Homo sapiens: one gene and its partners. The protein of the gene in region 7 purifies or fractionates together with the protein of the main gene of each other region. This does not show direct contact. Each region holds a gene or a part of one and is shown on either strand. Other genes may lie near its edges. The genes, in order: DSG2, TDRKH, CNTN1, SYPL1, SLC20A2, GPC4 and SLC19A1.

Region 1 (4,425 bases), on a different chromosome or scaffold from region 7:
CATGGTGGCATGCATCTGTAGTCCCAGCTACTCAAGAGACTGAGGCAGGAGAATTGCTTGAACCCAGGAGGTAGAGGAGCGGAGATCGCGCCAGACAAAGGGAGACTCCAACTCAAAAAAAAAAAAACAAAAACAAAAACCTAATCTCACCCCAGCACAGTTGCTTGTGTCTGTAGTCCCAGCTACTCAGGCAACTGAGATGGTTGGAACACTTGAGCCCAGGAGTTTGAGACCAGCCTGGACAAAAAAGCAAGACACCATCTTCAAAAAAAAATTGAGGGGTAGATAAAATTTAAAAATAGATGTCTAAAAAAATTTTTTAGTAAGATGAAATAAGCACCTAATTTCTCCAGTAGATAAATCTCACATTTCTACTTGGTAAGTGGATTAAAAGATATTACTTGGTCCAAATTTGAAACATATCTAGGATAGAAAATGTCCTAAGTGGTTAGTACCTTCTCCACTCCAAATTGGCAAGGGAATTCAAACTATGTCTGTTGTCAGCAATAGGAACAGAATGTACATACTTTTTCTCTCTTATTTTTAAGATTATCCTAGAAAAACCATCACTGGCACAGTCCTTATCAATGTTGAAGACATCAACGACAACTGTCCCACACTGATAGAGCCTGTGCAGACAATCTGTCACGATGCAGAGTATGTGAATGTTACTGCAGAGGACCTGGATGGACACCCAAACAGTGGCCCTTTCAGTTTCTCCGTCATTGACAAACCACCTGGCATGGCAGAAAAATGGAAAATAGCACGCCAAGAAAGTAAGCAAAATCACTGGACTACATAGAAATCTAAATATTAAGCATGATATCTAAAATATTTGTAAGTTGTATTTCTTCTCATAAATTATATTTCCAATATAGTTTTTTAAAGGAGTTTATGAAATGAGGTCCTGAACCTACTGACATATAGTATCTTTTATATGCTTATGGAGAGAAGAAAAATAATCTAAAATGTCTTGAAGGTAGCTGGGTATTCCCTAAATAGCCCTTGAAGTAGTTTTGTCTGGTAAGGTGAGGAGTACCAAGCCTTTGTCAGCACCACAATCGTAGTAGTTTGCCTTCTAAAAATCTTGTAGTAACAGTAATTCCATTTAAAACAACATTTATTGAGCACTTGCTATGTGCTAGGCATTCTGCTAGCCCACCCTATGTATTACCATATTTAATCCTTCCTTCAACATTATTCCCTGATTAAAGCTGAGGATACCTTGGTTTAACTGGGGGTAAGTAAAGCTCAAACCTAGAACATGATAGAAACAACATAACAGGGGAGTTATCTGATTCCCCCCTTCCCCATGTCAGTGGACATGTCCATATGTCCACATCCAGGACATCTAGACACATGGACCATATGATGTGTTGATGTGAGTTTTCAGATGTCCTTCAGGGTGGTTCTGAATGCAGAAAAGTCTATCCAGAAAACTATTTTGTTTTAAACAACTAGGGTTCATTTCAGTAAAATTTCAAAGACAATAGTCAGTTTTTTTTTTAATTTACAGCTTTATTGTGTTAAGTCTAGCAAATGTTTGAAATCATTTTAAGAGGGTTTGAATAATGTTTAGTCCAATTAACAAATTAAACACCATCAATATTTCAAACTGTATTTACAGATTTAATATATTTAGTTTCCTTATATATTTCAGTGATCTGAATTAACAAAACCTCCCAGCCAGGTGCGGTGGCTCACGCCTGTAATCCCAGCACTTTGGGAGGCCAAGGCAGGCGGATCATGAGGTCAGGAGATCGAGACCATCCTGGCTAACACGGTGAAACCCCGTCTCTACTAAAAATACAAAAAATTAGCCGGGCGTGGTGGCAGGCACCTGTAGTCCCAGCTACTCGGGAGGCTGAGGCAGGAGAATGGCATGAACCCAGAAGGCAGAGCTTGCAGTGAGCCGAGATTGTGCCACTGCACTCCAGCCTGGGTGACAGAGCAAGACTCTGTCTCAAAAAAAAAACTCCCTATGATCCTTATACTCTAAAATTCTAATAAATTTAACTTACAAATACACTGAGTTGTATATTACAGAATATTATCAATAACAAGTTGAAGCCGGGCATGGTAGCTCATGCCTTAATCCTAGCACTTTGGGAGGGTGAGGCGGGTGGATCACTTGAGGTCAGGAGTTTGAGACCAGCCTGGCCAACATGGTGAAACTCCATCTCTACTATAAATACAAAAATTAGCTGGGCATGGTGGTGGGCACCTGTAATCCCAGCTACTCAGGAGGCTGAGGCAGGTGAACCTGGGAGGCAGAGGTTGCAGTGAGCCAAGATGGCAGCACAGCACTCCAGCCTGGGCAACAGAACGAGACTCCATTTCAAAAAATAAGAAGAAGAAGAAGAAGTGTAAGAGTGCTAATGTTCCTTGATCTTAGAAGGTGCATGCTGAAGAATGTCGTGCTATCTGTAACTTACCTTGAAATAGTTAAGAAACTTTAAAAAAAAGAAAAAGTGGGTATATAGAGGGCAAAGAAAGCATTGTTGCAAAATGTAAACAGTTAGTAAGGGTTTGTTAATATTCACTAAAATATTCTTTCAACTTTTCTGTAGGTTTGAATTTTTTTTCCATTTTGAATGTATATAGTGTTGAGAACAAAAAAAGAAGGGACTAGAGAAAACAAGATCAGCCCATCATTGAAAATGATTAACGCTGAGGATGGGTACCATGGGGGTTATGCTCTTCTCTTTATTACTATGTTTGAAAAATTGCCTTAATGAAGTTTTTTTTTAAAGAAATGGTAAAATAAAGGTCATTCAGTAGAAATGTTAACTCACCACTTGTTTGTCACTGTATTCCCAGTGTATAGAACAGTTCCTAGCTTTCCTAGACCCACACACATTGGTTACAGCTAATCATCATGAAAGTAGGTGTCCAGGTCTGAACCTTTGCTATTTAAACTGCATATTCAGGGCCTATAGACAAATTTTAATGAGCACACTTCAATAAGTGAAGGAAGAACAAAGTACCTAATTGGAGTTAAATACAATCAGCAATGAAAGAACATTTGTGGAATTTAATGTTGCCTCATCCTTGGTAATCGTTCGTTTTTATTTCCTTCTGCCTCCCAACCTTGTAGGTACCAGTGTGCTGCTGCAACAAAGTGAGAAAAAGCTTGGGAGAAGTGAAATTCAGTTCCTGATTTCAGACAATCAGGGTTTTAGTTGTCCTGAAAAGCAGGTCCTTACACTCACAGTTTGTGAGTGTCTGCATGGCAGCGGCTGCAGGGAAGCACAGCATGACTCCTATGTGGGCCTGGGACCCGCAGCAATTGCGCTCATGATTTTGGCCTTTCTGCTCCTGCTATGTAAGTCTTTAAAAGCCACTCTGTTGTGCTTTTGGGAATCTGAGTGCACTCCTGGAGATGTGTTACTATGGTAGTCATTGATTTCTTCACAGTTATTCTTTAACCACACTAGAGCACTTTGAGGGTGAATAGGGAAACAACTGATGATTGGCAAATCACCAAAGCATAATATAAGACTCTTCAGAATTTTGTTTTATAAATGTATATCCTTTTCTGGTTTCAGTAACTTAGGAACTATTGGCATAAACTTCACTGGTATTCCCATTTTGATGAGCTCTGTGAGGGCAGCATGCTGTCTGTTCTCTTCACTGCTGTATTCCCAGTGTGTGGAACAGAGCCTTGCATGTAGTAAGCGCTCAAAAAAGATGTGTTGCATGACTTTGGGTTATGGGCACAAGGTTTTTTACAAACCCAGTTTATTCCAATCAATCCTGCTTTGTACATTCAACTTATCAGAGCTCCGCCTCCCTGATATTCCCCGCTTGCCTTGTTTCTTCGTCAGCACCAAAAGTAGGCAGACCCTCTGAGCACTTCCTGTCCTTCCTGACCGTAAGATGTTCTCAACCAGTCCTGCCTGCCCTACCCACGCTCCAAAGACCTCGGGTTTCCTTTTATAAAAGAACAAGGGACTGCATCCTGAGGTCACATGAAATATCACTCTACTTGACCACTGAATATGGACAGAGGGCCGCCTCCAAGGCAGCCTAGGCTAGTGCAGTGACAGAGGAGAGGTCTGTTAGACAAGGGGTCCCCAACCCCCAGGCTACAGACCAGCACCTGTCCATGGCCTGTTAGGAACCAGGCCGCACAGCAGGAGGTGAGTGGTGGAAGAGTGAGTGAAGCTTCATCTGTATTTACAGCCACTCCCCATCACTCGTGTTACCACCTGAGCTCTACCTCCTGTTAGACCAGTGCTGGCATTCGATTCTTATAGGAGCTCAAACTCTATCGTGAACTACTCATGCCAAGAGATCCAGGTTGCGTGCTCCTTATGAGAATCTAATGCCTGATGACCTGTCACTGTCTCCCATCACCCCCAGATGGGACCATCTAGTTGCAGAAAAATAAGTTCAGGGCTCCCACTGATTCTACATTATGGT
Region 2 (4,425 bases), on a different chromosome or scaffold from region 7:
TTATACAGTTGTCCCTCCCTTCGTTATTTGCAGGGGATTGGTTCCAGGAACCCTGCAGAACCCAAATCCATAGATGCTCATGTCCCTTGTATAAGATGCATATTATTTGTATATAACCTACACACATCTTGCCCTATACTTTTTTTTTTTAAACCCCTTGAGACAAATTCTCGCTCTGTTGCCCAGGGTGGAGTGCAGTGGTGTCATCAGTTTACTGCAGCTTCCACCTCCTGGGCTCAAGCCATCTCCCACCTCGGCCTCCTGAGTAGCTGGAACTACAGGTGTGCAACACCACGCCTAGCTAATTTTTTTTTTTTTTTTTTTTTTTTTTTTTTTGTAGAAACAGAGTCTCACTATGTTGCCCAGGCTAGTCTTGAATACTTGGTCTCAAGCAGTCCTCCTACCTTAGCCTCTCAAAGTGCTGGGATTAACAGGCATGAGCCACTGTGCCCAGCCTGTTTTGGTGTTTATGTTTCCTAGACTATGAATATTTCCAAGTAGAAATTCTTCTTCCTCCTTCTGTCCCCAACGTGCTCAGCACACAAGAAAGAGCTAGCACTATTTAACCAAGATGCATTAATAATGGAAACAAGCTTTGCACTTTAGTGGTCATATAAGAAAATACCTAAGCCAGGCGCAGTGGCTCACGCCTGTAATCCCAGCACTTTGGGAGGCCGAGGTGGGCGGATCATGAGGTCAGCAGTTCGAGACCATCCTGGCCAATATGGTGAAACCCTGTCTCTACTAAAAATACATAAATTAGCTGGGCATGGTGGCAGGTGCCTGTCGTCCCAGCTACTCATTAGGCTGAGGCAGAAGAATCGCTTGAACCCGGGAGGCAGAGGTTGCAGTGAGCTGAGATCGTGCCACTGCACTCCAGCCTGGGCAACAGAGTGAGACTCCGTCTCAAAAAATATATATATCTAAAGTAATCAGGGGACAAAAGAAGTCAAATTCTTTCTAGACACCAAGAATAAACCATCTCAATGTAGGAAAGTAGCAGTTTGGGAGGTGTGTATTCAAGAATTATTTAAGTCAAAAATCTCCTTTATGAAACAACTTGTTTCCTTTCCTTTGGTATATACAACGATGCTTATATAATACCATCCAAACTTTCAGGATGGTGAAAGCTTTTATTTGCAGTGTATTTAAAAAAAGAGAAGCTTATCCAATGACTTGGGAAAAGAACCTCATAAATGAAAACAAACAGCCTACATTAACCTCAACCCTTTCTGTCCTACATTCTAAAAAGGTCGGGAGAGAACAGTATTCCCTCAGATTGATAGTCTCTAAAAATGATATACTGAATTCACTGAGTAACTAATGACCCAAAATAGACGACACCCTTGAAAAGAGGTACCCATCCCCCACCTCGGGTAGTAAAAGGCCGTTTTATTATTTGCTCAGGCTTTTGAGTCCGGGCAAGAAGGTGGATTAAATTTGTTTAAAACCAGGATATAGAAAAAATAGATTTGGCAAACTTCTGGTAGTTCTCTGAAGAACTTTATTCAGTTCTGTTGATCAGTAAAGCTGTGAGGCCAGATGCAAATTCTGGTCATCTGTATGACAGTGTAGTAGTCTACCCTTCTCCGTGGTTTTGCTTTCACTTACCCATAGTCAATCCTGGTCCAAAAAGATTAAATGGGAAGTTCCATACGTAAACAATTCTTAAGTTTTAAATTGTGCACCATTCTGACTAGCATGGTGAAATCTCCATCCTGGCCCAGACGAGAATCCTGCCTTTGTCCAGCATATCCATGCTGTATATGCTACCCGCCTCTTAGTCACTTAGTAGCCATCTTGGTTATCAGATTGAAAAAACCTATAGTTTTCAGTACTCCAAGGCATCCACTGGGGTTCTTGGAACATATTCCTCGAGGATAAGAGAGGATGACTGTTGTAAGAAATCTACCTCCAGCCTCCCTTACCTGACTATATCTGCTCCTCAGTGAGATTTCGGTGCTAGATGTTCTCCTTTCTCTCTTTACTCTTCCAGATTGACTGTGCTTTCCCTGAAAGCCTAAGTTTTATTCCACAGTAGGTTTTGTATTAATGAGTATGTTTTTAGCCTTACCAGGATATAGCCAGTTTTTCCCCCCAGGGTGAAATACATTTTTGTTTATTATAATTATTTGGGTTGAATTTTTGTACCTGGAGGTAAATTATGGCATAAGTTACATTTACTCATTTTTAAGCAAATCTTATTTAAAGCCAGCTTGCTTTGTTCTACTAGATTGTAATATCTGGAAATACAGATATTTAGTTTTCAGTTTTTTATCACCTATCTTTAGTTTTTTAGTCTTCAGTGTTTTTTTAACCACCTACAGTACTTTCTACCAGTATTAATTTTGAATTGAATATGTTGATCAAAATAAAGAATAAAAATACAGGTGCTGTTACCCTAAGAGCTTAGGTAAAAGGAAGAGTGGGGAAGGATTTCTAAAATCACTTTACAAGGTTTTTTACAAGCAAGAATAACCCAGACTCTGGGTTAGAGATTAGATAACCTCTTCAAGCATGGGTACTCTTCTATGGGATTAATATTTCCTGCCTTACAGGGTTATATGACTGTAAAATAAAATTATGTAATTTGCCTGGCATAGTAGCTACTCAACACATTATCTCTTCATTTTTGTGTCTTTAGTGCCACAGTAGCATCTAGCACATAGTACTTACTCCAGCTCTTGTGTTGAGAATAAACTGAATGGACAATGGCAAAGGCAGGAACGTAATTAAGCAATGCAGTAATCTAGGGAAAAGATAATGGTGTTTTAGAGCAGGGTCATAGAACTGCAAAGAGAAAAAGTGGTCAGATTCTGGATGATTTGAAGGTAGAGCAAATAAGATTTGTTGACAGGCTAGGTGTGCAGTGTGAGAGAGAGGATGACTAAGGGAGTAAGAGAATGCAGTCGAGGCAGAGCACAGTGGTTCACACCTGTAATCTCAGCACTTTGGAAGGCTGAGGTTGGTGGATCACTTGAGCCCAGGAGTTTGAGACCAGCCTGGGCAACATGGTGAAACCCTTTCTCTACAAAAAATACAAAAATTAGCCGGGCATGGTGGCATGCACCTGTAGTCTCAGCTACTGGGAGGCTGAGAGATGGGAGGATTGCTTGAGTCCAGAGGTTGTGGCTGCAGTGAGCCATGGTTGCGCCACTGCACTCCAGCCTGGCAACAGAGAAAGACCTTGTCTCAAAAAAAAAAAAAAAAACGAATTGCCATTTGCTGAGATGGCAAAGATTATGGGAAGGGGGTGAATCAGGAGCTCAGTGTTAAGTTTGAGATGTCTATTAGACATCAAATGGAGATCCATGTAGGCAGTTGAGAAAGGTCCTAAATGGATCTATTAATTTGGAAGTTATCAGCATCTAGATAGGAGTTAAAGCCAGTCCGTGAATGAGACTTGAGATCACCAAGAAAGTGAGGTAGAACAGAGAAGAGGGCGAAGGACAGATCCCTGAGGCACTCCAGTGTTTAGAGGTTAGAAAAATGTGAAGAAACCAGCAACTGGGAGACTGATGGAATAGCCAGAAAGGAAAGAGGAAAACCAGGAGGGTGTGCTATGGAGAATGTGTTTCAGAGAAGAGGGAATCATCAGCTGTGCCAAATACTGTGGGGACATCTGGTAAGATGAAAACTGAGAATCGATCTTTGGATTGAGCAGTATGAAATCATTGGTGACTCTGATGTGAGCAGTTAGAGTGGATTTAAGAAGAGAACTTGAGGACAGATATATTGACACTCGAGTTTTCCTTTAAAAGGAAGAAAAGAAATGGGAAGTAGTTGAAGTGAAATCCAGGAAGGGTTTTCTTTAAGAACAGAGAATGTTTGTCTGCTGATGGGACTATCCAGTAGAGAGGAAAGAAAACGTTAATCATGTAGTAGAAGCAAGGAGAACTTGTGGAGCAGTGCTTTTATGAAAGACTTCAGTGCTAGGAGCAGAGACAGTTCATCTGTGGTCACAGGAGAGAACAGCAAGCATTTAGGCACAGGTGGAGGAAGGTGGGCAAATGTGTAGAAGCTTGTGGATATTTTCTCTGAATGCTCTCCTTTTTTAGTGAAATAGCAAGGACCTCAGTTGAGAGAGGTTGGAGGAGGCAGCACGAGACGTTTGAGTGGAGAGGGAGGCTGAGAAACTATGTGGAATAAGGAAATATAATGAGGAACATGTTAAAATTTGCTTGGCAGCAAAATGAAGATACAGTGTCAAAGAGAAACTCAGCACAAAAGCCTGTAAGAAGTCCACTGCTGTGGTCTAAATAAGATTTGAGCTTCTGAATCAGGCCAGATGCAGCATTGTTGATGTCATTAGCATATAGGTAGTAATTGAACCCACATATGTGGATGAAATGGTCTAAAGAGAGCAGAGTGACATTAACAATTGATGGCACAGGATGAGAAGCCCAAACTTGGAAGGACCCTCCA
Region 3 (4,425 bases), on a different chromosome or scaffold from region 7:
CGGAGTCTCGCTCTGTCGCCCAGGCTGGAGTGCAGTGGCGCGATTTCGGCTCACTGCAAGCACCACCTCCAGGGTTCACACCATTCCCTGTGAGCCATCTTTCTAACAGGAGAGTTATATGATTTGATTTGTGTTTTAAAAAACCCCCCTGTCTATTGCATAGATAATAGGCCTTGAGAGGCCAACACTGGGAGGCAAGAGGATCATTAGAATTGCAGCAGGGCCAGGCAGAGATGTGGAAATATGTAAATCTTAGCACATTTTAAATATGTGAACTGTGATTGCTGTATTGTAGGCATTTAATGTCTATTTGTTGAATGAATGAATGAACAAACAGCATAATGCTTATAAACATTAAGATCTAGTAGTGTGTTATAATCCTGGCTACGTATTTAGGGCATGAAAACCAAAAGAAAGTACTAAGAGTCTTTTAAATTTAGAAAAAAACCTGTAATTTCTGTTTGTATTTACACATTTGCCTCATTAAAATAATTTAAATGATTTGAAAATCCAAACTTAAAAACAAGAATATTCTAGAATGGTGTTATTCACCAAGCATCTGACATTTCATAACGTTAATTCTACAGTTTATTTGTACAGTTATGGTCAGAATAAGAGATAAATAATAGAAATTCTAAAATCAATAAGAATGTTGTCCATTAGTTGGCAAAAAGAGAAAAATATGAAAAATATCCTAAGTTTGGGATTAAAAAAATACTCTTCTATACATGAGCTATATATACTGAAATATCAAATTACAGCTGTGGTATGCTGAAATCAACCGATACAACCCCTGAAATCCAATTGTTAAATTTTTAGGAAATGTATGAGCAATGTGTTAAAAATGTAATTATTAAAATAGAATTTATGTAAACTTAAATTTAAAAGCTTAAAACAAATGTAGTAAATACTCAAAACCCATCATTTCTTAATATTTTACTATATTATAATGTTGTCAAATGTTTTTTAGGTTCTTATTATACCTGTATGGTGGCAATTACATATAATGATGTGCTACTGGGTAGCTCTTCACAGCTCCATATTAAGTGACATCACTTGGAAAGCTTGAAATCACACATAATGAGAATATTTACACCACAGAAACAGGCAAACATTATAAACAGGGCTTTCCCCTATCCCTAGTGATTCTACTGTTTAACATTTACCAGTGCCATTAGTGATAGGTAAACTGATGTTACCATCACTGCTACATCATCTCTTGCTGAAAACCTCTAGTCTAAATCCCAGAAGCTAGGTTCTCCTTTCGGTGAGGAATGATGAACCAAGGGTGAGTACAGAGAGCAAAAGCTCGCTGTGGCTGGCTTCTACACAAGAGAAAGAAGGCCCAGGGTTCAAGAGCAATTTATTTAGTTATTTGTGCTTTACCTTCCTTGAAATAATGGCCATATTTCCCTCTGATTTCCTTTTGTGAAACTGCCCACTAAGTGTAAAACTATTGAAGATGTTGACAAAGTTCTGAATATAGAAAATGTTTCAAAAATAAGAAAATTCTATTTTCCCCTGTCAAATTAGCAATGACTAAAAAGACAATAATATTAGAGTGGTACAGTGAGAAAAGCACTTATACTCAATGATAATAGGAATAGAAATTAGTAAGTGTTTTTGAAGAAATTTAGCAACCTAAAACACTTTGTCTTAAATTTAACCAGAAGAAAGATTAATTTATGAAAATGGACTCTAAAAGTATTATTTATGATAGAAAAAAACTTTAATGAGTTTGCATATTTGTTTGAAAGAATATCATTTATAATTTTTAAATAATTTACAAAAATGGAAGCTGAAACATGAAATTATATATGTATACAGAGTGACTATAAGTAAATTCAACTAAGCATTAACAGTAGCTATTTTAGGGTATTTGGAACATGATTATTTTCTTTTCCTTTCACATCTCTGTAATTTCTCTATTTTCTTAAAAGACAAAATTGCTGATGATTAAACTAAAAAAAATCAAAGTTCTATTTTGATTTGTAAAGGATGTATATATGTATTGTGGCAAACTTCACAAAAACATGGCATACAATTGAAGCCAGCATTTATTAAATACCATTAAATACTCTGGCATTGTGGTAAAGGATTTTTTGTTGGTTTAATATATAGCATATTTATTTCTTTATATCAAAATCACCAAATTTTCAATTTTCTTTTTTTTTAGTTTTCTTAAAATTTAACTTTTATTTTAAGTTCAGGGGTATATGTGCAGATTTGTTATACAGGTAAACTTGTGTCATGGGGTTTGTTGTACAGATTAACCAAATTTTCTTATAAATTATTTATTATCATCTTTGTTCTAGGATCTTCTGGTAATGTCAAAGCCTCTCATACATTTCTCAAATTAACATCTATTGAAATTCAGTATAATTAAACTATATCATGCATATAGGTTAAGAAAAATATGTCAAAAATTAAATAACAGATTGCCAGAAATAAAAAAAAAGAAATGACTGCCTCAAATATATGTATTTCCAAATCAAACAAAGGTGTGAGAAATAGAGTTTGTAGAAAAGGAATAGATAAGATAGAGAAAGAGAAAAGACAAAGGGGCTATAATTTAGTGTTTTTCTCTTTTACTACTATATCAATATCTATAGTCCAAGTGAAAGAGTTATAAGAGTATTAAAAATAGCCTAGTGTATTTCCTTTTGATAGAAGTTTGGTTATTATTAAATAATAGCCTAGTATTATATAGTATTCAATAAATTATGCCATTTTAATTGTGCTTTTTATTTGAAAATATTTAACTGACAAAGATTAAATATATTCAAGGTGAACAACATGAAGATTTGATATATGTATACATTGTATAATGATTACCACAATCAAATAAACTAATATGTTCCATACTGTATATTGGATCCCAAAAACTCGTTCGTCTTATGTCTGAAAGATTTCAACTGTGCTTTGACATCCAGATAATAATCAAGAAGTATGTGGTATGTCACAGACTTACTTTTGTGACTCATAAGAGGAGAAATACCAAGTTTCAGGGAATCCTTGATATGTCCAATCTACTTAGGAAAATATGGACACTGGTGTATCAGGCTTATCCCTACCCTTGGGAATCCACAGGGTCTAGAAACTCACAAGTACTTAGTTGAAATGTGTCTTAAATGACTCACTTACCTGAAATTTTGACTTGAGACACCACTCCATCTCCTCCATCACTGTGCGCGCGAACCTCCACAACGTATTCTCCATCTCTGGGGATTGGGACTTCTATGGAGTGTTTGTGAGTTGAATACAGCTTGCCATCATGCTGGCCATCAGGTCTGTAGAGTACCTTATAAAGTACAGAAATGTAAATATGCAGTAAAGTCATAATAATGAGCCAATGCTCTAACACTAAAACCAGAATAAAAATGCTTATACTTTGATTAACAAAAAGTAATAAATTTAAAACAAGAGGAAAAACTAAATTTAAAACTAGATGAAAAAAATCATGTTAGTTTCAATTCACAATAGTTGATTTTTGCAAGTTTGTAGGATTATCCAAGGAGATGTGACTTAAGCATCTGAATTTTATTTTTTGAGATGACCCAAAATAAAAATATAGAAAGAATGAGTCTTTTTAAGAAAAAAGTCCAAAATGAGAACTTTTAAAATATATTGAAATGGTCTGAAAATTGTCTCTCAATTTTTATTTTTACCATTTTCCATAAAATTTGGTATCCAGTGAAAAATGTGATAGTGTGTGATATAAAGAATATATTTAAAATAAGCTTTTCTCCTTTTTATTCATTTATAAACAGTAACTCAGTTTATCAAGGAGTTTTCTGGGTGCTGGGCAACCCTATCATAATCATTGCCAAACAAAAATAGTTTCGTTCTCTCTCCTCCTTAAGCTCTGATTATTCTATTTTATCTTTAAAGTATTCTACTTATCTTACACTTTTGACATAACATTTTGCTGAAATTCACTGAAGATAATGTTTTCCATTTCAAAATGTATCATGGCACTACGTTATCTGATTCTGCTCTACAACTATTAAATAGAATAAGAAAGTTGAATGGGGCCAGCCGTGGTGGCTCATGCCTGTAATCCCAGCACTTTGGGAAGTTGAGGTAGGTGGATAATTTGGGGTCAGGAGTTCGAGACCACCCTGGCCAAGACGGTGAAACCCTGTCTCTACTAAAAATACAAAAATTAGCCGGGTGTGGGTGTGGGCACCTGTAATCCCAGCTACTTGGGAGGCTGAGGCAGGAGAATCACTTGAACCCAGGAAGTGGAGGCTGCAATGAGCCAAGATTGTACCACTGCACTCCGGTCTGGGTGACAGAGCAAAATTCCATCTCAAAAAAAGAAAAGAAACCCATCTTGGGTTTCACTGAAATAGCAAGAATTGCAAACATTAATCATCACTATTTGTATATACCTTATATCCCGTCACTGTAGATTCATTTGAT
Region 4 (4,425 bases), on a different chromosome or scaffold from region 7:
GCTTCAGATACTATTCTGATAATTTTTTATTGTTGTGCCACCGTCTTGTGATCTGATTAAGTAGTCTGTTTTTACCTTGTAATATGGCTGTTGATTGTAATCATAGAGTAGTATGAATGCTTCCATTTTCTCTTTTATACATGAGTGTGTGTGTTACCAATCTATTTCTTTGAAGACATTTTAAAGCCATGGGTCAATTTTGTGAAGGTTGATTTGGTTAAAACTAGACAAATTATTCCATAAATCCAGGCCCACTCACATTGTAATGCATGAACACTAAAAGTGAAAGAATAGATGAGGTTATCACTGTCTGTCCTTCCATGTATGAGATTCCCCTTACCTTCAGGATACCCAGCATGCTGTACTGACATGTGACCTTCTGATGTGCATGCCCAGCATGGGTTTCAGTGGTATATTAATTGCAATAAAGCTTCAATTCCTTATTTAAGTCTGAAAGTAGATCTAAATAGAAGTTTACATATTTTCTTCTGGTACTCCAGTCTACTTTGGAGACTAGTGCTCTGGAAAACCAGGCTGTACTATTCACCCTGAGGTTACAATTCTCTGAATAAGATCTGCCATGGTGGTCATCTAGTATGGGTCTGGTGGGCAGAGAAGTAAGTGGGACTGTTTCTCTGGATACTTGGGGCTGTATGTGAACATGTAACTTTTCTGACTAAACAGAAGCTTGCTGTCACCCCGCCCCTGGATTCTTACTAGTCACTGTGCAGATAGAATTCCATGTCAGTAGTTTCAGTCATTCTTCATGGGGTAGGAGTATATGGGAAAATAAGTTTCAAAAGTGGCCAGAAAATATAAATCAGAACACCAGTACTCCTTCATTTTAGACTAGGGTTGGAAACTGAAATGGTCATAGGAACCACCCTCTAAAGTAAATGAGTGAAGCAAGATGTTTGGAAGAAAAAGAATAGTATGTCATTGATTACTTACTGGCAACTAACACACATCCTGAGGGCTGTTAAGACAATGGAGAAGCGGATAACCTGGAAAGCACATACTCTGCCATAAGTGACATCTGTCACTCAGTTCTCTCTGATTGTTGCTTTATGAGAATGTAGGTCTGATGTTGCCATTCTTCAGCTTTCCCATACACACTCAGGAAAAGCAGGAAATCCAAATTTTTATGTGTAATACCCTGATATTAAAACAATGACAACAAATTCACATTTTTTTGTAATACTGGAAAGGCCACACAAATATATTTGCAGGCCGGGTTTTACCAACAGGCTGCCAGTATATAACTTCCAGTCTAGATCAAAATAGCAGTAGAATATAGGGAGAAGTGAGATAGTTGGATATTTTGCCCTCATAATTTTGTACTTTGTTTAATATAAAATATGTGCTTTTGTCCCTTCTTTCTATAAGATAAAGACCAGAATTGCTGTCATGATATTTATCTATCCTTATAACAAAAAGCTTTAAAATAATAATTATGTAAGATTCAAAATATGGTTTTATTTATAAGTTATTGGAAATTATTTTTTCCTTAATTAAGTAGTTATTTAGTGAGCATCTGCTATGTGCCAGGTTTTCTGCTAGTCACTGAAAATCCTAAACAAAACCAGGTGCAAAGACATGACAGTCTGGCAAAGGAGCAGTAGAAGTGATAGTCTTGAAAGCAACAAGCTGTAGTGCAGTATGCCATTTATTTGCTACTTGTTATATTAGGAAATTCATTTTTCCATTTAATTTTTTTATTTTATTTTATTTTTAAGACAGGGTCTCACTGTGTTGCCCAAGCTGGTATTGAACTTCTGGGCTCAAACAATCCTCCTGCCACGGCCTCCCAAAGTGTTGGAATTACAGGCATAAGCCACTGCACCCGGCCCCATTTTATTTTTTAGAAAGCAAGTTACACAAGAAAAATGCCTATAGTAGAGTTCATATATAATAGAGTTAATGTCTATGATAGCTCAAGAGAAGAATCATGAGTTCTACCACAGGGAATTGGGTAGGGCCTTAAAAGATGAGCTAATCAGAGACAGGGCATTCCCAGAAGAAGAAGCATATACATTTAAGACATAAATACATGGTATGTTTCAGGAACAGTAAGCAGTATAATGTGACAGAATCATACAGTACCTGGCAGTGAATAGACTGCAGATAAATCTATCTAGAAAGATAAAGTTGAGGATCGATCAGCCATGCCTTTTATGCCAAATTAAGAAGTTGGAGCATTTTTTGTTTAATTTAGGTTGAAAAACAATTGAGGAAATTCCTTTAAATGGGAAGGACATGATCAGATTTTTATTTCAGATCAGTTTGGCATCATTCTAAACTAGCTCTGTCCAGTACAAAAAAATACAATGGGAAGCAAAAATGCAAACCACATAGTAATTTTCAGTGTTCTATTAACCACACTAAAATAAGAGGAAACAGGTGAAATTAATTTTAACAATATATTTTACTTAACCCAATCTATCCAGATTATTGTTTGAACAAGTCGTCAATATAAAAATTAATGAAGTATTTCACATCTTTTTCATAGTAAATCTTCAAAATCTAGTGTGTATTTTGCAGTTGGAGTATATATCAATTTAGATTAGTGACATGTAAAGTGTTCAAGACTCACAAGTAGCATTACTGGGTACTGCAGCTATAGTGCCCACATTATAGAAGATGAGTATCAATTGGAATGAAATTGGAAATGTGAGAAAGAGTCTGCTGGGTTAGTCCCAATGAAAAATGGTGAGGGCCTGAACAAAAATAGTGGCAGGTGTAATGTAGGCAGGTAAACAGAGCTTTTTAAAAAATGGTTTTATAGTCTAGGTAGTCATATGCAACATGGTTTTTATTTTGTTTTTGTTTTAACTCAGCATTGGATTTCTATGATTCATCTATGTTGATGTAGGCAGTTGTAATTCTTATATCTTTTTTGCCGTATAACTTCCCAGTGTAAGAATATACTATGGTATTTTATCCATTTCCCTGTTGCTTTTCCCCTCCCCATTTTTCATGAACATTCTTATATGTCTCTTAGTACGTGTGAGCAAGGGTTTCTCTTAGATCTATATACTAGTAAATCCTTTGTGACATTATGTTTATTATAAATATGTTCATCTAATTGGTAGCTTGTTTTACATTCAACAGCTGACTTGATTAAGATTTTTTTTCTGTAGTTGAATTTAACAATCTTTTATGGTTCTTTTTTACAAAAAAAAATCTTAAATTCTCCCTTTTCATGTGGTCACAGGTTTTCTTTTATATTGTCTTCACATTTTTTAAAGACTTTTTACTTTTGTGTGCAGCTCATCTGGACCATTTACTGAACAGCTCTTCCTTGTATTAGTTATCTATTGCTGTATAACAAATTACGCCGAGCTTAGCAGTTTAAAACAAAGGTCTGTTGACTTTTATTAAGTGAGATAATAAACCTCACCCATTCTTCTGTGGGTCAGGAATCTGGGAGCAGCTTAGCTATGTGGTTTGGGCATAGGGTCTCCCATAAGGTTGCAGTCAAGCTGTTGGCTGGGGTTGCTGTTATCTCAAGGCCTCCAGCTTATTCTCATGACTGTTGACAAACCTCAGAGGATCCCCTTCCAAGCTCAGTCATGTGGTTACTGGCAGTCCTCAATTCCACACCATGTGAGTTTATAAAAGTTGCCTGAGTATCCTCCCAACATGGCCACTGGCTTCCCCCGGAGAATGAGAAAGTTCGAGAGAGTGAGAAAGGAAGACAGAAGTTGCAATCTTTGGCCGGGCGTTGTGGTTCAAGCCTGTAATCCCAGCACTTTGGGAGGCCAAGGCGGGTGGATCACCGGAGGTCAGGAGCTCGAGACTGGCCTTACCAACATGGTGAAACCCCGTCTCTACCGAAAATACAAAAATTAGCCGGGCATGGTGGCAGGCACCTGTAATTACCCCTGCTACTCAGGAGGCTGAGGAAGGAGAATTCCTTGAATCTGGGAGGTGGAGGTTGCAGTGAGCCAAGATTGCACCATTGCACTCCAGCCTGGGTGACAGAGCGAGACTGTGTCTCAAAAAAAAAAAAAAGTTGTAATCTTTTTATAACTGAGTCTCAGAAAAGACATCCCATTTCTTCTACAGTACCATATTCTATTCTGTAGAAGCAAGTCACTACATTTAGTTGACACTCAAGGGAAGGGAAATCAGGCTCCATCTCTTGATGGGAGTTGTATCAAAGAGTTTGTGGGCATATCTTTAAAACCACCACATTCCTTTCCTCCGTGATCTACAAATCAACTCTGTTAGATACAATTTGTCTTATACACACTAGTCTATTCCTGGCCTTTTTATTCTGCTCCATTGGTTCAATTTGTGTATCTCATTTCTTTTCTTTTTTTTTTTTTTTAATTTAAACGTGGGTATATGCTCAGGACTCATTTTCTGGCCTTTTCACTCTGTGTATTCATGCATATTTATTCTGAGAGAGTATTGATTCTT
Region 5 (5,025 bases), on a different chromosome or scaffold from region 7:
CTCTGTTCCAGCCCAACCCTTGCTGGACCTGACCCTTTTATTCTAGATGGAAATAGATACCAGTGGGTCACCATTCTTTGCCACTGAGACACACATATACTTGAAGAACAATTCAAGAGTCTCCCGGTCATTTGTTTCCTCTTCCAGGCTAAATAATAGAAGTTCCCTACCCTCTTATCATAGGTATCATTTTCCAACCCTCAATTGGTTTTTTTTTTTTTTTTGAGGTTCTTTGTGGAGCCAAGTCTCTTTGTTGTGGAGCCATGAACTAGACCCAGAACCTTAGAGACTGGCTGAGGTTGGGCACGGGGGGAGGGACTCACAGACTCACAGAACCACGCAGGCCGCTCATGTTATTACTCCCCAGTACCCAAGCCTTCCTATCAGCCCTTCTTCTGATTCATGTGCTTCTAACTCCTTTACAAGCTGCAATAATGCTCAGTAGACCTTCATAATGCCTTTCCTCTGAGAAGCTGAAGGCATTTCCCTAACTAATATTACAGTTGACTCAATATCCTAAACCAGTGCAGGGTTAAGTAACTTGTTGAATTGCAAACCAGTTCAGGAAGGGAGAATCTGGAACTCCAGATTTCTATCTAAATATCATTTTATGGAGAAAGATGCTTTGATATTTATTGCACTTTATAACAAGTTTACCCCCTCCACATAATAATAATAGTTTTAGGTGCAAGTGAAACTGTGAAGCTTCTCCTCTTTGTAGGAGGATTGCAACAGAGGACTGAGAGTGGGGGGCAAGGCTTCTGGGGTCAGTCTTGTCACTTGTCCCCATCACTTCCCAGCTATGGAGGAGAAAGGGAAGGCACAGCCCAGGTGGCACAGCTGTCTGTCCTAATCGTCTTTGGCAAAAGCTCAGAGGAGCTGAATGCTGAAGTATCCTCAACCCACCCCACTCATCTTGTTTCCCTTTTCTTCATTTTCACATTTTTTTTTCTGCCAGTGTAGTTACTGAATGTCAGGGGGCCCAGTTTCTGTGTCCTGCCTTGTTGTAGCATGTGGGTTGGAACTATGCTTTCCTTGTGCACCGCATGTGCTGTGGGGTGCTTAATACATGCTAAATAATGACAGCAGTACCCCGTATGCCCGAGAAATCAGCCTTCCTCCTGAGGGCCATATCCCATTATGTTACACTTGTTTTTAAGACGGACGGAAGCTGAAGGCATCCCTCCTGCTCACTGCTCCTTCCACTTTAGATGAACAGCTGGAACTCACATAACACAGCCTCTTCCGACAAGATTTCCTTTAGAGAGAGAACATTCTAGGGATGTGATCACTGAGCATCCGGGCTCCAAGCCGAAAGGCAACCTGTTACATAGCGCAGTTCCCATTTAGCCATGCAGGCAAGAGACCCATTAAAACCTCATGTGAGGGAAGAGGTCCCAGAGAAAAGGTTCCTCTCTGCGTCCCTGAGAAACCCCTCAAAGCTTCTGAGCAGAAGGCTATCCCTCTAGGCAGAAAGTAACAGTGAAATAAATCTGCAACCGGCAGCGATTCTGTCAGAGCCTCTGGGTCTGTAACTATTTTAAGACGTGGAGGAGTAGGATGAGAGCACGGGCAGCTGGACAGAGTGGCTCCAACAGGACTGCAGGGGAGACGTGCGGTCACCTGCGGCGTGGGAACAGCAGGGCAAGGGCAGGCGGGCTCGGCTCCTGGACTCCTCCTGCGGCCACAAAGCTGCCCTGTTTCTCCGCACCTGGACCCCCAGTGTGTGACTCTGCATAGAGCTCATCATGATTTGTCGCCCAAGGTCATAACCAGTCACAGCCAGCATCATTTCACCAGGCACACGGGGTAGAAGCAGCGAAGAGAATCGCAGCACCGGCAAACACGAGGAATTCCGGCACTAACACTTATATAATGAAAACCTTCTCCGCTCTCACTCACCGCTGCCACTCTCTCACAGCACGTAAATCATTAAAACGAACACTCCTCAAGTGTTTATGCGCATTTTAGCAACTCATCATAAAGCACATGCTTCCTAGTAGTAGAAAAACCTACAGAAACGTCTGTGAAATTAAACAATGGATAAATTCGAATCAGCTTTTCTCTTTTGCAGGACTAAGAACTACAATAGGTCAAGTGAATACTGGTGTGAAAACTAATACCCAACTACAGTGTACCTTTAAAAATGCTCCACTGAGATTCTGATGGTGCCTTATTAACAATTAGAAGTAAGAAGTAATAGCAATAAGTCAGAATTTTTTGGATAAAAATATATATTATGAAGGATTACCGGAGCAAAACCCCTTTTACTGCTGAAGATGACATTAGAGGCTTCTGTTATCATTATAATTCATCTGGGCAGCAAATTTCTCTTCAGCTCAATAAAAACTAAGTATGAAGTAAGTTTCTTTCTAAAAATAGCCCAAGAACTCAGTACTACTTTCCTTTCTTACACTCTTTTCCTACTAAATGGAACACTGAAGTATTTCCTTTCATTGTTGACACTTTATGTCATTTGCATTTAAAATCAGACAATACATAATAACAAAGAAGTCTTTAACTAAATCTTTTCAAAATGGGAAAATGGCTTTCACAATACTAACTGTGGACCTGCCTCCTTCCTTGCTCTAGAGATGACAGGCATAGATAGCTGGTGAGCACCTATCCTATCGCCTAGGAGAACTGTTTTATTAATAACAATATTCCTAAAGCTGATACATTTACTTGCTAATTGATAAAGAAATTCCTGCCTGGTTCTCTGCTGTAAGCAAACTGTTTGGCTTGAGGTCAGTCCACATTGAAAACACACTTCTAAATAAGCAAGATGATTCAAATTTAATTTAAAATATTCAATATCAAAATCTTTTGTTTTCTTCAGTACAAATTTAAGTTGGTAATAATGTGTTAGATGAACTGCAGTTAAGGTTACAGAATCCCATGGCCTTTGGTTACTTTTGATAACTAACTCAGTCTAAAAGAGGATGCTTTAAATTATTCTCTAAAACCTTCTTCCTAAATTAATTTTTTAAAGTGCTTCTCTTTAGGCATATATGGGTTTATTTTTTAAGCACAAAATCCCCCTTAAAAGGATAAAAAACTGTCCATCTATACATTCAAGAAAATTACATTTGACACTCCATTATTTCTACAAAATAAACTTGTAGCACAGAGTATAACAGGAATTAACTTTCAACATTTTTTTCTCAAGAATTAGGTTACCATAGTAGAAAACAAAGCTCAATGACACAATACAATGTTTCTGTATTTACAGAAACCATATCCATTAATCAAATATTTTAACATAAAATAATAATCTACAGATTGCTTTTGCAAAAATAAGTAAGAATCGAAAACTTTTTCTTGGGCAAATTGAATAAGGCAGATTTATTGCAGTAGGAGACATTTAAAGAAAAACCTTTTGCCACCTCTCTTAGCTTTCTCTAACGTACCAACCTGAAAGCTTCCAGTTTTCCCAAGAGATAAACATTACTATGACGGTAACATTAGGAAGATTTAAGGAGAAAAGAACAAAGAGAAGTCTTAAAATTCCACCCAGTACTTACAAGTAGTTTCCAAGAAAACTGAGCCACAATTCTTCAGAAGACTGCTCTCCTGATCACAAACACAATCTGAAGTCTAAAATAGATATCCTACCACATTAGGCCGAGAAGTCACATTTCAGCTTGCTAACTTCTACTTTTACAACTCATAGAACTAACCCCGGCTAAAATTAACTGCAGCCAAGCAGCAGGCAGGAACACGCTGATTTGCATCATGTGTGCCGGGATTTATTCACTAGGACAACATCGGTGTCCTCTTAATGGGAAATGCGGCCAAGGGGCGTGCCCTGGTGAACAATACATAGCATCATGATTATGCTAATTACTGAATTCAGTCCAATAATACTAACTTCTTTTAAGTTGTTTTTGCAAGTACTGACAAAGAGAAGGAGTAAGCTTTTTCCCAACAGGCATTCACTTGATTTTTAAGCACATTCAAATCAGACCAAACTTTGGCAACAAGGTGGCAGTGCTGTGTGCTCTTCACAAGCAAAAGCAAAGCAAAAGGACATTCTGTCCGATTATTTAAACAGCGTGATTAGATGCAGCACTACGTGAAATTAAATAGACACAGAATATACATATCAGTAAGTCTATCCACCAGAATCCTGAAATAAAAGCTTTTTCTTTCTCTATAATGAACTGATTGCAGGGACTTGCTTTCTGGCTCTGCCTCCTCCTGCACCTCCCAAGGAGTCGCTATGAAGACACAGATTCAGTAATAAATCACAACTGAGAATAAACATCTCAAATATTTGCAAAGGCATTGTCCTTGGCAAGAAGCATTTTAAGGTGGATTTAACTCCTTGGCTAGAAAAATTGTCCTCTGTAGGTGACTGACCATCTACAAAGCATGTTGGAACTCAAGTTAACAGGTAAAGACCCCAAACATACAGCTGACACTTAAAAGAAAATCAGAACATGAAAAACTTTCTCTCGAAAATATAAGTACAACTTATAACAAAGACACAAAACCGCTTAGTATCTACTCAAGACGGTTTGGGACTAGTTTGCTTTAGACTAAGTTCTGATGACATATTTTGCTCTTATTGAACACTCTATGAAAGATATCAAAGCACTTTACAAACATCAATCAAATCTCCAAGCATCTTTGGGAGATGTCATTTTCCTCTTTTTTTTTTTTTCCCACAGACAGGTAAAAGACAGGGTAATTCCATTTCAACGACTTCAACCAACCCTGGATCACCCCATCTCCTCCTGAGACCTTTATAACATCTTCCGTATTAACCACTTACCTATAATCCTATAGACCTTTTCAGAGCCATTTGTTTTCCTCATTTTAAAATGTCATATGTTAGTTTGGACTTCAGGAGATTCACTCTACTTAACACCCAGATGCCAGGCCTGAACCCCAGGGGCTTAAAAAGCCCTCCTTGACTCTCTCTTGCAGACAGGTATCCTGCAACATGGATCCCTAAAACATGGCGATGCCCTCAGGAGGCACTGTCCATCTGCAGCCTGCTGCCCAAAGCACAAACCGGTT
Region 6 (4,425 bases), on a different chromosome or scaffold from region 7:
CACACACTATCAGAAGGAACATTGAAAAGAGTCTCATGATGTTATTGTATAAATCCTTTAGAAACCCAGGATCAAGCTGGATACTCCCAATTTGTACTACTGTCACAGAGAAACACCCAGGAACTTATTTTCAGAAAACTTATGTGCTTGCTTGTAGGGGTGTTTGATTATGTTTTTTGGCCTCAACCATTTTCCAGGCAGCTATAGTGCATGATCATATAGATAAGTGAAAAGGAGAAATGAAAAAAAAATTCAGGCCCAAGTAAAATAACGACTTTTGAAAACACCTGTCCTGCTCTTAGGTTACAATTAGAAGGCATGGTTAACTTTGGCTTAGATTCTTAAGTAAAAAGTTGAGGGAAATCTCATGTTTTAGACTTCATGTGCACATTTTTTCCAGTTTTTCTTTATTCACCTATGACAGAGAGAAAGTGAGAGAGAGAATGAGAGCATGTGTGTATTGTACTGACTCCTGAGAAGCTGTTGGTTTAAATTTTCATTTTTTTCCTCTCTCAGACACCTATGTAAGTGACTTTGTGACACAGCTTTCCTTTCATTGGCAAATGATCTGAGATGCCACATTCCCCAAAAGAAATTCACCCTATATACAAACACGTTTTCCAATTTAATTGTGTTTTTTTTCCAGTTTTCAAATTTACTGGAAAAGCAGTTATTTAAACACTGAAAACTCTCGTTTTTCCTTTTTTTTTTTTTTTTTTTGGTGTTGGTTTCAGAATTCTTCAAAGAACTACTTGAAAATGCAGAGAAATCCCTGAATGATATGTTTGTGAAGACATATGGCCATTTATACATGCAAAATTCTGAGCTATTTAAAGATCTCTTCGTAGAGTTGAAACGTTACTACGTGGTGGGAAATGTGAACCTGGAAGAAATGCTAAATGACTTCTGGGCTCGCCTCCTGGAGCGGATGTTCCGCCTGGTGAACTCCCAGTACCACTTTACAGATGAGTATCTGGAATGTGTGAGCAAGTATACGGAGCAGCTGAAGCCCTTCGGAGATGTCCCTCGCAAATTGAAGCTCCAGGTTACTCGTGCTTTTGTAGCAGCCCGTACTTTCGCTCAAGGCTTAGCGGTTGCGGGAGATGTCGTGAGCAAGGTCTCCGTGGTAAGTACTCCTTGTCTTCTCTGTTTTGTTTTTGTTTTGTTTTCTTTCATGTTAAAAGAATGTTTGGGAAAGGTAGAAAAATAAATCACCAAAATTCTGTTGGTTCAATGGCAGCCTTTTCTTCCTCTCTTACCTCTTCTCTCCCACACACTGTCCTTACACGTGTACATTTTAGAGTTACTAAACAATACTGTGATCAGAATCTTCACCTATCATTATTATTGTGGGGTTTTTTTGTAGCTATTCTTAGAAGGGGGAATATATGTTTACTCAGGAATCTTAATTTTTAAAGTAGGTTAATACTGCCATACCCATTTTAGCTCTTATTCTACTTCCTTTCTGCACAAACAAACATACACACACAGGCTCCACATTTGGTTGTTTTGTGTGACTGTCAGCCTACTAGTCATAGTCTAGGAAAGCATTTAATCTCTGTGAGCATATGTTTCCTTGTTAGAAAGTGTACTCAGAGCTCTTTGGAAGACAGGTTTCTACGACAATTAGTGTGGACTACACTGCTGTTGACTCATGACTCTGCAGAATTACCAATACAGAAAGTGAAATTGTAGTATGTGATCAGGAGCTGATGAAATGAACCTGTTTCCTCATTGGGAAATTCAGCGAATTGGACTAGATAGACTGTGTTCTTTTTTTTTGGGAGGTGGGGACAGGGTCTTGTTCTGCTGCCCAGGCCAGAGTGCAGTGGCAGGATCTCGGCTCACTTGCAACCTCCACCTCCGGGGCTCAAGCAATTCTCCTGCCTCAGCCTCCCTAGTAGCTGGGATTGCAGGCGTGTGCCAGCACGCCTGGCTAATTTTTTGTATTTGTAGTAGAGACGGGGTTTCACCATGTTGTTCAGGCTGGTCTCGAACTCCTGGCCTCAAATGATTCACCTGTCTTGGCCTCTCAGAGTGCTGGGATTACAGGTGAGAGCCACCATGCCTGGCCGATAGACTCTGTTCTTGAGCAGGATATTGCTTTAGGGGCCTCATTGAGCAGAAGCAACAGAGAAGGAAGTCTTTTGTGGGTGAGACCGTGCAACTGTGCCTTTATCTCCCAGTTCCACCAGAGAATCTTTGCTTTCTTTGACTTCACACAGCAGGGATCTGAGCAAGATTTCAAGGGGAAAGGGGTTCCACTGCTCCTTCACTGCCACTCCCCTCCCCCAAATGAAATCTGAAAACTTCTTGAAGACCCCACCACCTCTACCTTTCCATGAGTCAATACCAGGGAAGAAACATAAATATACTGGGGCAAAGTGATCTTTGCAAGGCTGATCTTAGTGCTGTCAACTTTAGGCCCTCAAAGGGAAAGCCAAATTGTAGGCCATTGCTAAAAAGCCTGGATGCACAACAACAGCAGATTCTGCTGAGGCCATTTGGTTGTTTTGAGGACTGGAAGAATGGACAGCATAAAAACTGGACAGCACTACAAACATGAAAATAGACACCTGATTGCCTCTCACAGTTTATCTACAGTTAGGGTGACCATATAATTTTTTATCCAAACAGGACACTTACTGTCTAAATCGGGAGGTGCTTATTAACAAATTATTCACAGACAACAGGTGTCACTTTTTTTTTTTTTGATAGAGTCTCACTCTGTCGCCCAGGCTTGAGTGCAGTGGCGAGATCTCCGCTCACTGCAACCTCCACTTCCCAGGCTCAGACGACAACAGGTGTCACTAATTTTTTTTTTTTTTTTTTGGAATCTCGCTCTGTCACCCAGGCTTGAGTGCAGTGGCGAGATCTCTGCTCACCGCAACCTCCACCTCCCAGGCTCAGACGATTCTCCTGCCTCAGCCTCCCTAGTAGCTGGGATTACAGGCATGTGCCACCACACTCAGCTAATTTTTGTATTTTTAGTAGAGATGGGGTTTCACCATGTTGGCCAGGCTGGTCTTGAACTCCTGACCTCAGGTGATCTGACTGCCTCTGCCTCCCAAAGTGCTGGGATTACAGGCATGAGCCACCGTGCTGGCCAGGTGTCACTAATTGTTAGTAAGCAACCAGGACTGTCGTGGACTGGCCAGGATACACGGGTCACTCTAGTTGGAGAGAAAACTTATATTCACCAGAGTGAGGATAAAGATTCTAAAGAATGGTTTATTATGAAAAATAGGTGCTCATGGGATTTTTCATATTAGAATTGGGTGATAATAAGGATTAATTGATTGATTGCATTCATTATGTTGTTTGTTCTCTCTCTCATCTCCAGGCCATAAACTGTCAGGAAACAATTCTTTCTAGTATGTTTTTGTTCACTCCTTCTTTGATATTTTCATCGTAAATTGCAAATATTTATTGGGGCATATGAGGGTGGAGTTGAGGGTAAGTGGGGAGATGATTGTTATAATTAAAGGAATAATATCTGATTCTTGAACTTCTGCCAACCCCAGCAACCATTATTAATCTTGGACATACTTTTGTCAGAGTCCCTAAAACAGTGCACAGTGAATCAGATCAAAGTTATTTGCATTGTGGTACACCCAGCACATTTGCCCTCCTTCAACAATTCCTCATGTTCATCCTCCACTGAAAGGGCAGAAAGACACTGCTGTGTGATTTGGACATCTGTGCATGCATGTGCATGTGCGTGTACACTTGTGCCAAAGAGAAAGAGAGTCAAGAGCCCTTTGCTAGTTTGAAAAGTACTTTCTTTATGTTAACCCTCTCCCCTTCCTTTGAGTTTCAGTGTTGATTCTTGGAGAAAAAGGGCCAGACAGCAGACTCAAGCCTGCCTTGGTGTTAGCCTCACTTTGCAAGGTTGGAGCTATTTTAGAGAACTGAACCTACAAACATGGATGGGGAGGGTAGCCAAACTGAGAAGTTTAGAGACAATTGATTGCAGGTTAGAGGATTGAAGGCTAGAAAAGGCTTGCCTTTGTTCTGCGTCTCCCTACCTCCCAGGTTACGGGGAAGTAAGCAGTTGTGCCTTCCCTGTGTTGCATTCTTCTGGACGTCGTTCTCAGAATTAACCATGGGAAACCAAGAAGCTTGACTTTGATATTTAAGATTCAGACACCCTTACTTATGCAACAAAGGTATGTGACCCAATGTGAAATAGTCACAATCACTTTTTCTTTCTCCTTTCTTTTTTAAAAGAGGCAGGATCTTGCTCTTTCACCCAGGCTGGAGCGCAGTGGCACAATCATAGCTCACTGCAGCCTTGATCTCCTGGGCTCCAGCAATCCTCCTGCCTCAGCCTCCCGAGTGAGTAGCTGGGACCACAGGCATGCGCCATCATGCCTGGGTAATTTTTGGGTTTTTGTTGTTGTTGTTGGTTGGTTGTTTGTTTTT
Region 7 (4,113 bases):
GATTTTTGATGAGCAATTACTGTTATTCAAATTGCTTGCCCGTAAAGTGTCATTTTTCTCTGGCCACTTCCAAGATTTTTTCTTTATTTTTATCGTTAGCTTATAGAAGTTTGAATATGGTATGTGTTGGTGTGATTTTGTTTGGGTTTTCTATTTGGGGTTTGCTCAGCTTCATGAATCTGCAGTGTACATCTCACCAAATTTAGGAAGTTTTCAACCATTATTTCCTGAAATGCTTTTTGAACCCCACTCCTTTTCTCCTCTTTTTCTAGATCCCCCATGTCACAAATGTTAGATCATGTTGTATAGTCCCACAAGGAATGAGGCTTTGTTCATTTTTTTTCAGTCCATTTTTTCTTTTGTTCAGGTTGGATAATTTCTATTGTTCTACCTCCAGTTCATTGATCATTTCTCTGCCTCTTCTATTTTGTTGTTGAGATGATTCATTAAGTTTTTAAATTCTGATTATTGTACATTTCAGTTCTAAATTTTTTTTATTTCTCCTATTTCTTTGCTGAGACTGTGTTTTTTCATTTGTTTCCAGCATGTTTGTTATTGTTCACTGAAGCATTTTTATGGTGGCTGCTTTAAGATCTTTCTTGGCGAATTCTACTGTCTGTGTTGTCTTAGTGTTGGTGTCTATTAATTGTTTTTCAGTTTGAGATCTTTGTGGTTTAGTGTGCCAAGGGATTTTTTAGTGAGATGCAAGCATTTTGGGTATGATGTAATTTCAGCATCCTGTTGTGGCTGACGCAACTCCTGCAGGTCAAGCGGGGTGTGCACCTCGCTACAGGCAGGTGGGGTGGAAGTCCAGGCTCTCACTCAGCCTTTGTGACACCTGAGGGAGGGTGGGTGGCTGGGTGGGGGCTCCTTCTTGTTGCCAGGCAAGGATGGGAGTCCAGCTCCCCTCGTGGCCCCCTTGATGCCCCTGGGGTTGGGACATTCTCATTATTGCTGGGTAGGTGAAAGTCTGGACTCCCGCTTGACCTCCTCTGACACCCCCCAGCATGGAGGGGGACAGGACAGGCACGCTCTTACTACTGGGTGAGGATAAGAGGCCAGGCTCCCCATATGGTCTCTGCTGACTCCGTGAGGCTTCGGGGGTGACTAGGCTCCCCACATGGTCTCCACTGACTCCATGAGGCTTTGGGGGTGACATCTTGGGCTTCCCTGTGGTCTCTGCTGACTCCTTGGGGGTGAGGGTGGGTGTCTTTACCAACCAGTGGGAGTGAAAGCTCTAGTGCCCACTGGTGTTGTCTGACACCACCCCGCAGGGGACTCGGGGGTCCTTGTTACAGGCTGGCGAGGGTGGGGGGTCCTTGCTGACATGGTGGGTGGAGCCGAGGTCTGGTGTTTGCGGGGAGCAGGGCGATTCCTGTCGAAAGGTCTTTCCTCATGTTGGGCTGACCCTTCCCTGGGTCTTAGGCCAGAGAGAGCTGCTTCCATGGGCTCTTTTTTCTGCATCTGTTGTCTTTTCCAGCCTGCTGCCTTCTTCAGTTTCAAAATATCTGAGGTGAAAAGAAAAGCCCCCAGGGAGCTCTGCGTGGCACAGTCTGTCCTTGCGTGGCACAGCTCCCCAGACCCCGAGGGCCCGGCCAGTCTGCCCTTGTGTGGCACAGCTCCCCAGACCCCGAGGGCCTGGTCAGTCTGTCCTCCTCGCTCCTGCTTTCAGAGTCTTCCCAGGTGTTTATCTCAGTGTCTTGGGTAGGAGAAGAGCAGGGAGAAGCGTGTCAGCCCCATCTTCCTCAGTTTGCTTTAAAAACAGCTGTCCTGGAAGGGTGCCGGTGCCGATGGGCTGCAGGGATTCTGGCCTGCGGATGTGGAGCTGGGGCCTCAGGGGTCTTGGGCGGGACTCACTGGGCTCTGCCCACGGATGTCCTGAGGGCACTGCAGCCTCCTGAACCCTCTGCACCTCCGGGAATGATCAGGTCCCTCCCTGGTGTCCCAGGGACATCTCCAGTCCCTCCTGCCCCTGGCAGCTGCGAGAATCAGGAGAGATGTGGCCAACGCTGGTGCTGCTCCTTCTGGTCATCGTAGCACAGCTTCCGCTGCCGAGATGGAGACGGGCTCCATGTGCAGGCTGCTGGGGGTTGCTCTGGGCGCGAAGCCCTGGGGATCAGCTCCTGGTCACCTGCTGTGGCTCTCCTCACCCTGCTCTGCCAGGCGGGACGTTCTGGCCCTCATGGGCACCCTTCCGCTGTCTCAGCACCATGGGGGGGCAGCAAGCACCACCAAGCAGGGGACTCGGGAGCAGACACCGCAGGCCACGCAGAAGCAGGCCACCTGCCAGGTTCCGAGGGGTTCTTGGGAAATGGTGGGAACCCCCCTTCAGGCCTGTGCCAGGTGGTGGAGGTCGGGGGGGCTGTGGTGAGCACTGTGGCACCTGCTCCTGGGGCTGGCCTCTGACCGCTGTGCAGTGTTCAGGGTCAGCCTCTGAGCTGGAGGAGGGTGAGCCTGGGAGCAGGCGTCGGGGTGTAGGGTGCCAGTGTCCCAGCCAGGCCCTCCCCACCCGCCTCACCCGGCCTCTCTTTCCAGTTCCAGTTATACTCCGTGTACTTCCTGATCCTGTCCATCATCTACTTCTTGGGGGCCATGCTGGATGGCCTGCGGCACTGCCAGCGGGGCCACCACCCGCGGCAGCCCCCGGCCCAGGGCCTGAGGAGTGCCGCGGAGGAGAAGGCAGCACAGGCACTGAGCGTGCAGGACAAGGGCCTCGGAGGCCTGCAGCCAGCCCAGAGCCCGCCGCTTTCCCCAGAAGACAGCCTGGGGGCTGTGGGGCCAGCCTCCCTGGAGCAGAGACAGAGCGACCCATACCTGGCCCAGGCCCCGGCCCCGCAGGCAGCTGAATTCCTGAGCCCAGTGACAACCCCTTCCCCCTGCACTCTGTGCTCCGCCCAAGCCTCAGGCCCTGAGGCTGCAGATGAGACTTGTCCCCAGCTGGCTGTCCATCCTCCTGGTGTCAGCAAGCTGGGTTTGCAGTGTCTTCCAAGCGACGGTGTTCAGAATGTGAACCAGTGACTCTCGGGCGCCCCTGTGGTAACTTTGCAGGCGGCCCTCAGTGCATCCCCACGACCCCTGCCTCGAGGGCCGCCTGCCTTAGCAATGGGGGCCTCCGCTTATCCTGCTAGCAGGCCCCCTAGGATTCCCCCTGCCCTGTGCCGCACTCTGGCGGTGGCCACAGCGTGCTGGCGACACTCAGGGCAGCTGCCTGGCCATGCTGTCCCTGCACTGTGCCCCGCGGGCTTTGTTGCTGGAAGAGGTGGGTGGTGGGCTTCTGCGTCCACCAGGCCTCACTGGCTCATGCCCCTTGGGGGGCTTGAGACAAATCCTTTCTGCCCCCCAGGGCTAGTGAAGTGGCCTCTTGGATACCAGCTCAGGGGACACTGGCCCCACAGGAGTTGTGAGCCCTCTAGGGCAGGGTGGGAGCCGGGACCCTCAGGTGTAGCTGAGCTGTGACATTGCTGGTCATCCTTGGTGCTCTTGCTTTTTTGAAAGATGCTTTTTTTTTTTTTAACTGACGTAGAATGAAGAACTGCATGTGGCTTCTCTGTCTCTGTGGAAAAGCCATCTCAGGTTGGCGGCAGACACATTGTCATCAGAGGGGAGCAGCGGCTCTGGTCCTCGGAGCTGGTTCCTCTCTCCCACCCTAAGGGCAGCCCTCCATGGTCCTGTCTGTCCTTCTGAAGTGTGTCCATCCTGACCTGCGGGTCCTCAGCTGCTCCCACACTTGTGCCAGCCCGGAGGGGACTGGTCCCGGTCACCGCGGACGTGCTGGCCTTGGTATGTGCCAGGCTTGCCTGGGCTGGGCAGCCTTGGGGGGGCTGCCTTTGTGGTGGGCGCTGGGGAAGTACGTCCCAGCGGCCTCAGGGTCTAAGGAGCGCTAGTGCCTTGCCCACAGGTGCGGGACCATCTGATGTGATGTGAATACTCTTCCCACATACATTAAACACACTTAAGTGAGTGTGCGCAGGGCTTCTGATTCAGGGCCGGCCTGGCCTGGGGGTTGAGGGTCAGCAGTCAGTGAGGAGGCCAGGAGAGGCGTCCCAGCCTTCTCCCGCCTCCAGCCCACGCAGGGCCTTGGTGCCCATGAGCTGAGCACCCCCACAACCCTAG

Evidence for each region.
Region 1: the proteins of SLC19A1 (region 7) and DSG2 purify together in Homo sapiens (affinity purification with mass spectrometry; one large-scale study listed by BioGRID and IntAct). This does not show direct contact.
Region 2: the proteins of SLC19A1 (region 7) and TDRKH purify together in Homo sapiens (affinity purification with mass spectrometry; one large-scale study listed by BioGRID and IntAct). This does not show direct contact.
Region 3: the proteins of SLC19A1 (region 7) and CNTN1 purify together in Homo sapiens (affinity purification with mass spectrometry; one large-scale study listed by BioGRID and IntAct). This does not show direct contact.
Region 4: the proteins of SLC19A1 (region 7) and SYPL1 purify together in Homo sapiens (affinity purification with mass spectrometry; one large-scale study listed by BioGRID and IntAct). This does not show direct contact.
Region 5: the proteins of SLC19A1 (region 7) and SLC20A2 fractionate together in Homo sapiens (co-fractionation; one large-scale study listed by BioGRID). This does not show direct contact.
Region 6: the proteins of SLC19A1 (region 7) and GPC4 purify together in Homo sapiens (affinity purification with mass spectrometry; one large-scale study listed by BioGRID and IntAct). This does not show direct contact.

What each region holds. Positions count from the first base shown.
Region 1 is NC_000018.10:31,535,654-31,540,078, forward strand, and holds part of DSG2 (desmoglein-2 preproprotein), read left to right. Parts: intron 1-548; coding exon 549-776; intron 777-3,097; coding exon 3,098-3,325; intron 3,326-4,425.
Region 2 is NC_000001.11:151,783,720-151,788,144, reverse strand, and holds part of TDRKH (tudor and KH domain-containing protein), read left to right. Parts: intron 1-4,425. UniProt on the Homo sapiens protein: Participates in the primary piRNA biogenesis pathway and is required during spermatogenesis to repress transposable elements and prevent their mobilization, which is essential for the germline integrity.
Region 3 is NC_000012.12:41,027,939-41,032,363, reverse strand, and holds part of CNTN1 (contactin-1 isoform 1 precursor), read right to left. Parts: coding exon 4,395-4,425; intron 3,302-4,394; coding exon 3,145-3,301; intron 1-3,144. UniProt on the Homo sapiens protein: Contactins mediate cell surface interactions during nervous system development.
Region 4 is NC_000007.14:106,101,686-106,106,110, reverse strand, and holds part of SYPL1 (synaptophysin-like protein 1), read left to right. Parts: intron 1-4,425.
Region 5 is NC_000008.11:42,497,507-42,502,531, forward strand, and holds the start of SLC20A2 (sodium-dependent phosphate transporter 2), read right to left. Parts: upstream 3,726-5,025; 5' UTR 3,525-3,725; intron 1-3,524. UniProt on the Homo sapiens protein: Sodium-phosphate symporter which preferentially transports the monovalent form of phosphate with a stoichiometry of two sodium ions per phosphate ion.
Region 6 is NC_000023.11:133,320,846-133,325,270, reverse strand, and holds part of GPC4 (glypican-4 precursor), read left to right. Parts: intron 1-734; coding exon 735-1,126; intron 1,127-4,425. UniProt on the Homo sapiens protein: Cell surface proteoglycan that bears heparan sulfate. May be involved in the development of kidney tubules and of the central nervous system.
Region 7 is NC_000021.9:45,514,563-45,518,675, reverse strand, and holds part of SLC19A1 (reduced folate transporter), read left to right. Parts: intron 1-2,535; coding exon 2,536-3,018; 3' UTR 3,019-3,523; coding exon of another isoform or gene 3,524-3,700; 3' UTR 3,701-4,113. UniProt on the Homo sapiens protein: Antiporter that mediates the import of reduced folates or a subset of cyclic dinucleotides, driven by the export of organic anions.